Regions from separate parts of the Homo sapiens genome. Here all the other regions are linked to region 3. The links come from fine-mapping of genetic effects on plasma protein levels. A gene starts in region 3. Each other region holds a variant in brackets. All regions are shown on one strand. Distances are between the middles of the regions.

The links. PIP is the posterior inclusion probability: the model's chance that the variant is causal. The UK Biobank Pharma Proteomics Project read protein levels with antibody pairs (Olink). The fine-mapping took linkage between variants from a reference panel, not from the people measured, so its PIPs are less certain.
Region 1: its variant is fine-mapped to the plasma level of the TNFRSF11B protein (UK Biobank, PIP above 0.99).
Region 2: its variant is fine-mapped to the plasma level of the TNFRSF11B protein (UK Biobank, PIP above 0.99).

What each region holds. Positions count from the first base shown.
Region 1 is chr8:119,087,863-119,090,628 of GRCh38, reverse strand. It overlaps COLEC10 (collectin subfamily member 10), which reads right to left. Exons shown (of 6, transcript NM_006438.5): 2 at 878-949. Among named protein-coding and RNA genes, the nearest start is that of COLEC10, 22 kb to the right of the region's middle. The variant AG/G (reference allele first, on the strand shown) is at 1,669.
Region 2 is chr8:119,184,482-119,187,247 of GRCh38, reverse strand. The region is part of intron 2 of LOC105375725 (a long non-coding RNA gene); the gene reads right to left. Among named protein-coding and RNA genes, the nearest start is that of MAL2, 22 kb to the left of the region's middle. The variant T/C (reference allele first, on the strand shown) is at 1,624.
Region 3 is chr8:118,950,521-118,953,241 of GRCh38, reverse strand. TNFRSF11B (TNF receptor superfamily member 11b) reads left to right here and starts at 1,357. Exons shown (of 5, transcript NM_002546.4): 1 at 1,357-1,450. The coding sequence starts at 1,421. It also overlaps a transcript of COLEC10 not described here.

The DNA.
Region 1 (2,766 bases), 140 kb before region 3:
GCTCTTCCAATGCTATTTCTTTTTATAAAAGTCTAAAAAATATTTGCCAATTAAAAATCTTTATTTTGTAAGAATAATCTTGTAATCGACATGCATATGTATACATAGGTTTAAGTCAGCATTTCCCAAATTGAGGTCTCACAGGTCTGTGAGTCTCTCTTTCTTTTAAACTATTCAAGATTTTAAAATAAGTGGTCTAGGGCAGCCCTCTTGTAGCAGTTGGCAAGAAATATTTCAAGTGTTCAGAAGGTGCACACATACACATCACAACCTAGAAGTTATATTTTGGTGAGGCCAACTCCCAACTTTGTGAGTGAAGACACTTCCTAATCATATCTGTGTTACTCTCTTCATCTTTGATTCCACTCCTCCCGTACCCCACCATTTCTCCAGTGTGTTATTCTTTTGTATATAACAAAGGAGGGAATTAAAGAAATAAAGAGATCTTGGGGAAAGGTGAATAGATCAATGAATCAGGTAGCCCTTTTTGTTTCTTTTTATCTTCCTCCTTAAGCTCTATGCCAGCTTAAAAAAAAAATGCTGCTTAGCAGTGGCTTTAGAAGGGAGACACAGCTATGAACACAGCACTATAACACATCGTTTCTTAAATATTCTCAGACAGTGCTTTTCCCTGGGGCTCCCAGTGTCCCACACCAGCCAGCCCTAAAGAATGCAACTTGAGAAACATATGAGAGTCTTGTTGACAGGTAATCTCAGAGGGGCATTCAGATGGCGAGTTAATTCATGTGTGAAATATATTTCAGGCATTGTTGGGGCAGAGGGCATTATGAAAGCTGCTAATTTCCAGGGCAAGGGCCAGGAGAGATAGAAGAACAATTATGATATTAAAATGTCAGTTTCACATCATTTTAGTTACCTTTCGGCCCCATGCGTCCCACTTTGCCATGCTTTCCCTCTTCTCCTGGATCTCCTTTTTCACCATCATCTCCTTTTGAAACAGAAAATGAGATAGAGTGAAGCATCTCAAACAGTAACATGAGCACATTCTCCCAGGGTAAGGTGGACATGGTTACAATCTTTCCCTCAGCTCAGCGCTTGCCTCACAATCCAGCTGTGAGTATGGATGTATGTTCACATGCACTTGACAATCAGGTGAAAGGAAGAAACTTCCAGTATATTTTTTACTTTTCTCCACATCCAACTCTATGTTTGAAGAAATATTCTTGTTGCTGAATTGTGATGTTTGGCCTGACAAATCTTTATTCTTGCTGTAGAATCTAGCAAATTCTGGATGGACAATAAACATAAAATTTACACAAACACACACGCACACACACACACACAGAGGCACACATAACTTATTACTCTCTGACTGCATGCTTGAGAACTCCAAAATTGTAGGCATGACCTAGGAAGCTAAGAATAGGAGACTAGGAATGGAGAAGCCACAAAGCAGTTTTCCATGAGTGGCAACTGTCTTAATCATAGGCAACTGTAGCTCCAGCACCTTGAAGAATTAAAGATTGAATGAATGGTTTAATGAACAATGCCCAGACTGAGAATCAGGAGTCTTGGATTTTAATGCCATGTTAGTCACTGATGGTTTGAACAAATCTTCAACAGGCCGGTGATTGAGTTTATTGGCTTTGGACTAGGAGAGATTTGACTGAAGTCTCAGCTCCACCACTCACTATCTGGAGAAATTTG[AG/G]TACAGAACTTCCCTCTCTGAGTCTCACTTTTCTCTCCAGCAAATTGATCTGATAACACCTACTGGAGTGGGCTTTCAGGAAGTTCAAATGAGACAACAGACATAGAACACCTGGGATACAATCAGTGCTTAGCAATGATGGCTGCTGTTTTTCTTTCCTTTATGCTTCCTTTCCTAAATGTGGGGATAGTATCTGCTCTCCAGGCCTCACTCAGTTGTTTTCGGATCAACAAGGTGAGCACGTGAATGTGCTTTGAAAACAAAGAACACAACACACACGATATTATGACCAGATACCTGCATTATCACCACAGCAATCTCAGGGCATGAAAGAGCCCTGTCCATCAGCAGATGAAAGGAGGAAAATCAAAACCTTCTAAAGACAAAAATGAAGTTCTTGGGATGAGACAGTTTGAGCGAGAGTAACTTGTGATGTTCATTGATTTATCCAGGAAAAAACACGACCAGAGATTGTCTCTTTTTATTTTTTTCTGAGTGCAGAATGTTGAAATTTTAAGTGAAAGCAAGGACAATGTATGGAAGAGTTGGATTTCCAGGTGTGAGATTGATCAAACATTGAAATACTTTACAAGGGAAGCTATAGATGCCTCCTAGGATGGCTTTCAGAAAAGAATGCACAGGTGATATCTGTGGTCAGACCAGAGGTAAGAATTGAGTGAACTAGATGAAATTTTTTTCTTCTTCTTTCTTTCTTTTCTTTCTCTTTCTTTTTTCTTTCTCTCTCTCTTTCCCTCCCTCCCTCCTTCCCTTCCTTTCCTTCCCACTCTCCTTCCTTCCCACTATTCCTTCCTTCTCTCTCTTTTTCTCTCTTTCTGACAGTGTCTTTCTCTGTCACCCAGGCTGGAGTGCAGTGGTGTGAACACAGTTCATTGCAGCCTTAACCTCCTGGACTCAAGTGATCCTCCTGTAGATTACATTTTTCTAGCTAAAGTTAACAGTGAATGTCTATTGAGCAATTATAAAGTCAGCCAAGCACAAGCTAAGGACTTGACATCTAGTCATCATAGCAATTCTAGGAGATGGAAACTCGTATTGCTCTATTTCATGAATGAAAAAAAAATGAGACTATGTGGTTA
Region 2 (2,766 bases), 230 kb before region 3:
ATTGTCAAGCCATCTTTACATGAATTTTTTTTTGAGACATCATCTTTCTCTGTCACTCAGCCTCAAGTGTGGTGGCAGGAACATGGCTCACTGCAGCCTCAAACTCCTGGGGTCAAGTAATCCTCCCATCTCAGCCTCCTGAGTAGCAGGGACCACAGGTGCACACCATATGCCTGATTTTTAATTTTTTTGTAGAGATGGGATCTTACCATGTTGCCCAGGCTGGTCTAAAACTCCTCCCCATTCAGCCTCCCAAACTGTTGGGATTACAGGTGTGGGCCACTGTGCCTGGCCTTATATGTGAGTTGATTATCAAATTTTTCAAGATGTAAATAAATGCATCTAATTATGGCATTTCAGGTTTCATGTTAGATAATGGCGTGTGATTAAAAATGATACACATTCATTGAAGAGAATATGAAAAATGTATTAGAGTAGAAAATAATCATCCATAATCCTATCTGTTGATAGTTTTATATTTTCCTTCTAGTCATCTTTCTATGTGTATTTGCACAGCCACGGTAATAGATCTGAACATCCTTTTTCTTTCCTCTTTTATGAGATATTTTAAGCATTTCCTGTGCTATTTTTTTAAAAAATGAATGAGATTACCTACTGTGTTTTCAGTTTTGCACTCTTATAAATACCTCTTATGTTGAATATCTTTGTTCATAAAACATTATTTTCTGTGTCTCAGGTGAATTTGTTAGCATAGATTCCCAAAAGTGATATTATCAAGTAAAAAGATGTAAAACTGTCTTGACACACGTATCAAATTGCTTTCCAAAGTGTCAGTCATGGGTGCGAATGCCAGTTTCACTGCATGATAACTTGTATTACATGATGCCATTTAAAAGAATTGCTATAATAACTCAATAGTCAAAATGGTATTTTAAATAGATAAATGGGCAAAGGATAAGAAAAGATTATTCACAAAATAATGACTCAAATGTCAAATAAATAGATGGAAAGTATTCAACATTACTAAGAATAAAAAAATTTTGGTAATGATTTCTAGAACCATTTACATTTCCTGGTTGCATCTGCCTGGGAGAAAGTCTGATAGAGTTTTAAAATAATTAAAGATGGGATGTATTTAGGCCCACATCGATCTGCGTTTTTCCCCATCTTCTTCCAATGGCCCTGTGAGATGTGGATTTGCTGTTTACTTGTTAATGTCTCACTGAATACAGTATGTCTGATGTAAGTGGGACAGGATTTTCACAGCAAGAGATGTATTCTTCCAGATCACATTTAACTTTCTTGGAGAGTGATGTCTCATCTCAACTGTCCTTGTCAGTGCAGCAGCCCAGCATTCTTGTTGGTGGTGTTTGTTATTTTAAAATGTCTTCCTTTTCTCTTTGTATTGGGCTATTACCAAGTTTTCTTCCTGATGCATATTTGTTAGGTTGCTTGTTTCTTAATGTGTGTACTTTTACCCCTTATATTGTACATTTAAAAATTCTGTTTTCACATACATCAAGCTTCTGAAGTTATCAAACTTCCTGTTTTGAATGTATACTCCTGTTTATCTTGGACACCCTTAGCAGACTACAGTTCTGTTTAAAGCAGAGGTCACACACTGGCTCATCATGGGCCATATCTGAATTGTTGACATGTTTG[T/C]CAATAATATTTGAACTCAAAAATAAGTCACCAATGTTTAAAAATTGTGAAGTTTTATTTATAAGTTTAGATTGCAACTTCCTCTTATGATCTGGGAACACTGGGCCCACATTTGTGCATCAGGAATGGGCTGAACATAAGTAATGGCTGCTTCGGTCCAGCATAGTCATAGGTTCTTCTCTTTCCTGTAGGCCCTGGCCAGACCATTTCCTTGTTTATATCTCTTTGCCGAGAGGCAATATGGCTTCATTCCTGAGAAGCATGTGCTCTCAGTCAAACTTCCTGGATGCGACACCCATCTCTACATATTTGCTAACTCTGTGTCCGTGGTGATTTCCTGTACCTTTGTGTGCCTCAATGCTCTACCTGTCTTGTAAGGTTAAGAGTACCTACCTCATAAGATTGTTGTGAGGGTTAAATAAGCTTATGAATATAAAGTGCTTAGACTGGTGCCTGCATATAATATGTGCTCAATACACTGTGGGTGTTATTATTAACCATCTGAACCTTGTAGGCATTGAGTTGGTAGCCCCTGTTTTAAAATCTCTAAGTTTGGTTTGAGAATCTCCCATAGATGCTATACCTTCAAAGCTGTCAGGTTTCCTCATGAGAAATGTCATTTTTTCATAGTAACATCTCATTGAGAAGGATAGTTTCCCTCACTACAACACACCAATGCACACACACATGCACACGCATGCAACCACACCAGGTGTCGGGGTGGATAGTATTCAAATGCTGTGAGATTTAGAGATCTCCGAGTAATGTCTCCTCAGCAAGATACACACTGCTACTCCTTGAGTTGTGAGCAACACAAGGGTAGAACATGTGTTCTTTGTTTCTTCCTTCTCATATCAGTTGAAGAGTGGTAATGTCAACATCCAGGGTTAATTCCTTTTCATTCTCTAGATTCCATTTCCCCTCAAACCTTTCCCCGTCAACTCTCATTCCCACCAGCATTCTTCTCTCTCTTTTCCTTTCACCTCCTATTATCTCATTCCATTTAGTACAAATCTTGCCAGATGACTTTTTTTGCAGCTAGACATTTTAATTTTTATAATATTTGTTCTTTTGGCTTTTAACAATATTTCTTACTTCAATAGCTTTTTGGAGTTCAAGTGGTTTTTTGTTACATGGATGAAT
Region 3 (2,721 bases):
TCACTTAAGAAACCAGCATGCTGTTACATTCTGGCCCTTGAGGGACAAAGCTGAATGACACCCCGTCTTCTGTAATTTGCAGGATGGAACAGTCTGTGGATCCACTTTGAACTCGTGGTGGAAGGATGTCCCTTGGAAGGGGCAGATGCTCTGATCCTGGTAAGCCATCCTTGCTCCCCAGGGGTCCCCTCTCCTGATTCTTCACCTTCCTTCCCTTGAATCTGGTGAAAGGCAGTATTTGCCCTTCTCTGGAGACATATAACTTGAACACTTGGCCCTGATGGGGAAGCAGCTCTGCAGGGACTTTTTCAGCCATCTGTAAACAATTTCAGTGGCAACCCGCGAACTGTAATCCATGAATGGGACCACACTTTACAAGTCATCAAGTCTAACTTCTAGACCAGGGAATTAATGGGGGAGACAGCGAACCCTAGAGCAAAGTGCCAAACTTCTGTCGATAGCTTGAGGCTAGTGGAAAGACCTCGAGGAGGCTACTCCAGAAGTTCAGCGCGTAGGAAGCTCCGATACCAATAGCCCTTTGATGATGGTGGGGTTGGTGAAGGGAACAGTGCTCCGCAAGGTTATCCCTGCCCCAGGCAGTCCAATTTTCACTCTGCAGATTCTCTCTGGCTCTAACTACCCCAGATAACAAGGAGTGAATGCAGAATAGCACGGGCTTTAGGGCCAATCAGACATTAGTTAGAAAAATTCCTACTACATGGTTTATGTAAACTTGAAGATGAATGATTGCGAACTCCCCGAAAAGGGCTCAGACAATGCCATGCATAAAGAGGGGCCCTGTAATTTGAGGTTTCAGAACCCGAAGTGAAGGGGTCAGGCAGCCGGGTACGGCGGAAACTCACAGCTTTCGCCCAGCGAGAGGACAAAGGTCTGGGACACACTCCAACTGCGTCCGGATCTTGGCTGGATCGGACTCTCAGGGTGGAGGAGACACAAGCACAGCAGCTGCCCAGCGTGTGCCCAGCCCTCCCACCGCTGGTCCCGGCTGCCAGGAGGCTGGCCGCTGGCGGGAAGGGGCCGGGAAACCTCAGAGCCCCGCGGAGACAGCAGCCGCCTTGTTCCTCAGCCCGGTGGCTTTTTTTTCCCCTGCTCTCCCAGGGGCCAGACACCACCGCCCCACCCCTCACGCCCCACCTCCCTGGGGGATCCTTTCCGCCCCAGCCCTGAAAGCGTTAACCCTGGAGCTTTCTGCACACCCCCCGACCGCTCCCGCCCAAGCTTCCTAAAAAAGAAAGGTGCAAAGTTTGGTCCAGGATAGAAAAATGACTGATCAAAGGCAGGCGATACTTCCTGTTGCCGGGACGCTATATATAACGTGATGAGCGCACGGGCTGCGGAGACGCACCGGAGCGCTCGCCCAGCCGCCGCCTCCAAGCCCCTGAGGTTTCCGGGGACCACAATGAACAACTTGCTGTGCTGCGCGCTCGTGGTAAGTCCCTGGGCCAGCCGACGGGTGCCCGGCGCCTGGGGAGGCTGCTGCCACCTGGTCTCCCAACCTCCCAGCGGACCGGCGGGGAGAAGGCTCCACTCGCTCCCTCCCAGGAGAGGCTTGGGGTTAGGCTGGAGCAGGAAACCGCTTTCAAGTTATGCCATGCTTCCCCTAGGGTGTCCTTTTACGCTGCAAAGTTCCTGCTGACTTTATGGAAGACAGCAAGAGAGAGACAGACAGCGAGAGAGAGGGAGAGAGAGAGAGAGAGAGAAACTTGTTTGAAAGTTTTAGTCATTAACCTTCTGTCTTCATCTCAGAATATTAACGCCCTCATGTAGTCCATACTATCTTTGCTTAATGAACTTGAACTTTTATTATTAGTGGCAAAGAAGTGGTCCCTTAGATTCAGAGTAAGTTGGAAGAAGACGTTAGTCTTCTTAAAACCATTATAATTAGAATATGACATGATAGATTTTTCTAATGTAAATATTATGTGAAATTTTGAATAATTAGGAGAAAAGATCTCTCACACACACACTTCTTAACTGTGTAATGTTTTAATAAAATTTTATTGTTAAAATTATTTCACTTCTCAACTTCAATATACTGTGGAGAATATTGGCAGTATGTTATGTTCTAAAACATATCTAAAGAATTGAAGTTCACTAAATAGGGCTAAAAATTGTGTTTAAAATGTTATTTGGAAAAGAAAGGAATCTCTGTGACTTAGCTTTTTTTTTAAGCTTAGGTTTTGATCAAGTTAATAAGATTTGCATGTAGGTTTTTCTATGACCAATGACTTATTTTCTCTATGACACTAGAGTGTAGAGTACATCAAGATATGAATCAGACATTTATGCAAGGCTAGGAAAAGCCATATTTAAGCCACATATGTGTTTTGGATGTGTTTGAGTAAATGTTTGAACTTCAACCTCCAACCCACAAATAATGAATAGAAGGCTAGGTAGTCTTCTACTTAGTTCCTAGGATACAGAAACATAAATAAGTAAATAAATAGTAAAGACACTAAAGAACAGGTAAGTTGGATAGGAATCTACCCATAAGTATGTTAAAATATATATGTATGTATGTGTGTGTGTGTATAACTTCATCGCTAGAGATACTATGGAGTGCTTTTAAAAAAGTAAACCTTTATTAAAATATAACACATAGAGAATTGTGCAAGTGGTAAGTGCCTAATGCAGTTTTTCTAAGTGAGCACTTGTGAGCTAGCACACAGATCAAGAAATATATTATCGGCACCTCAAGAG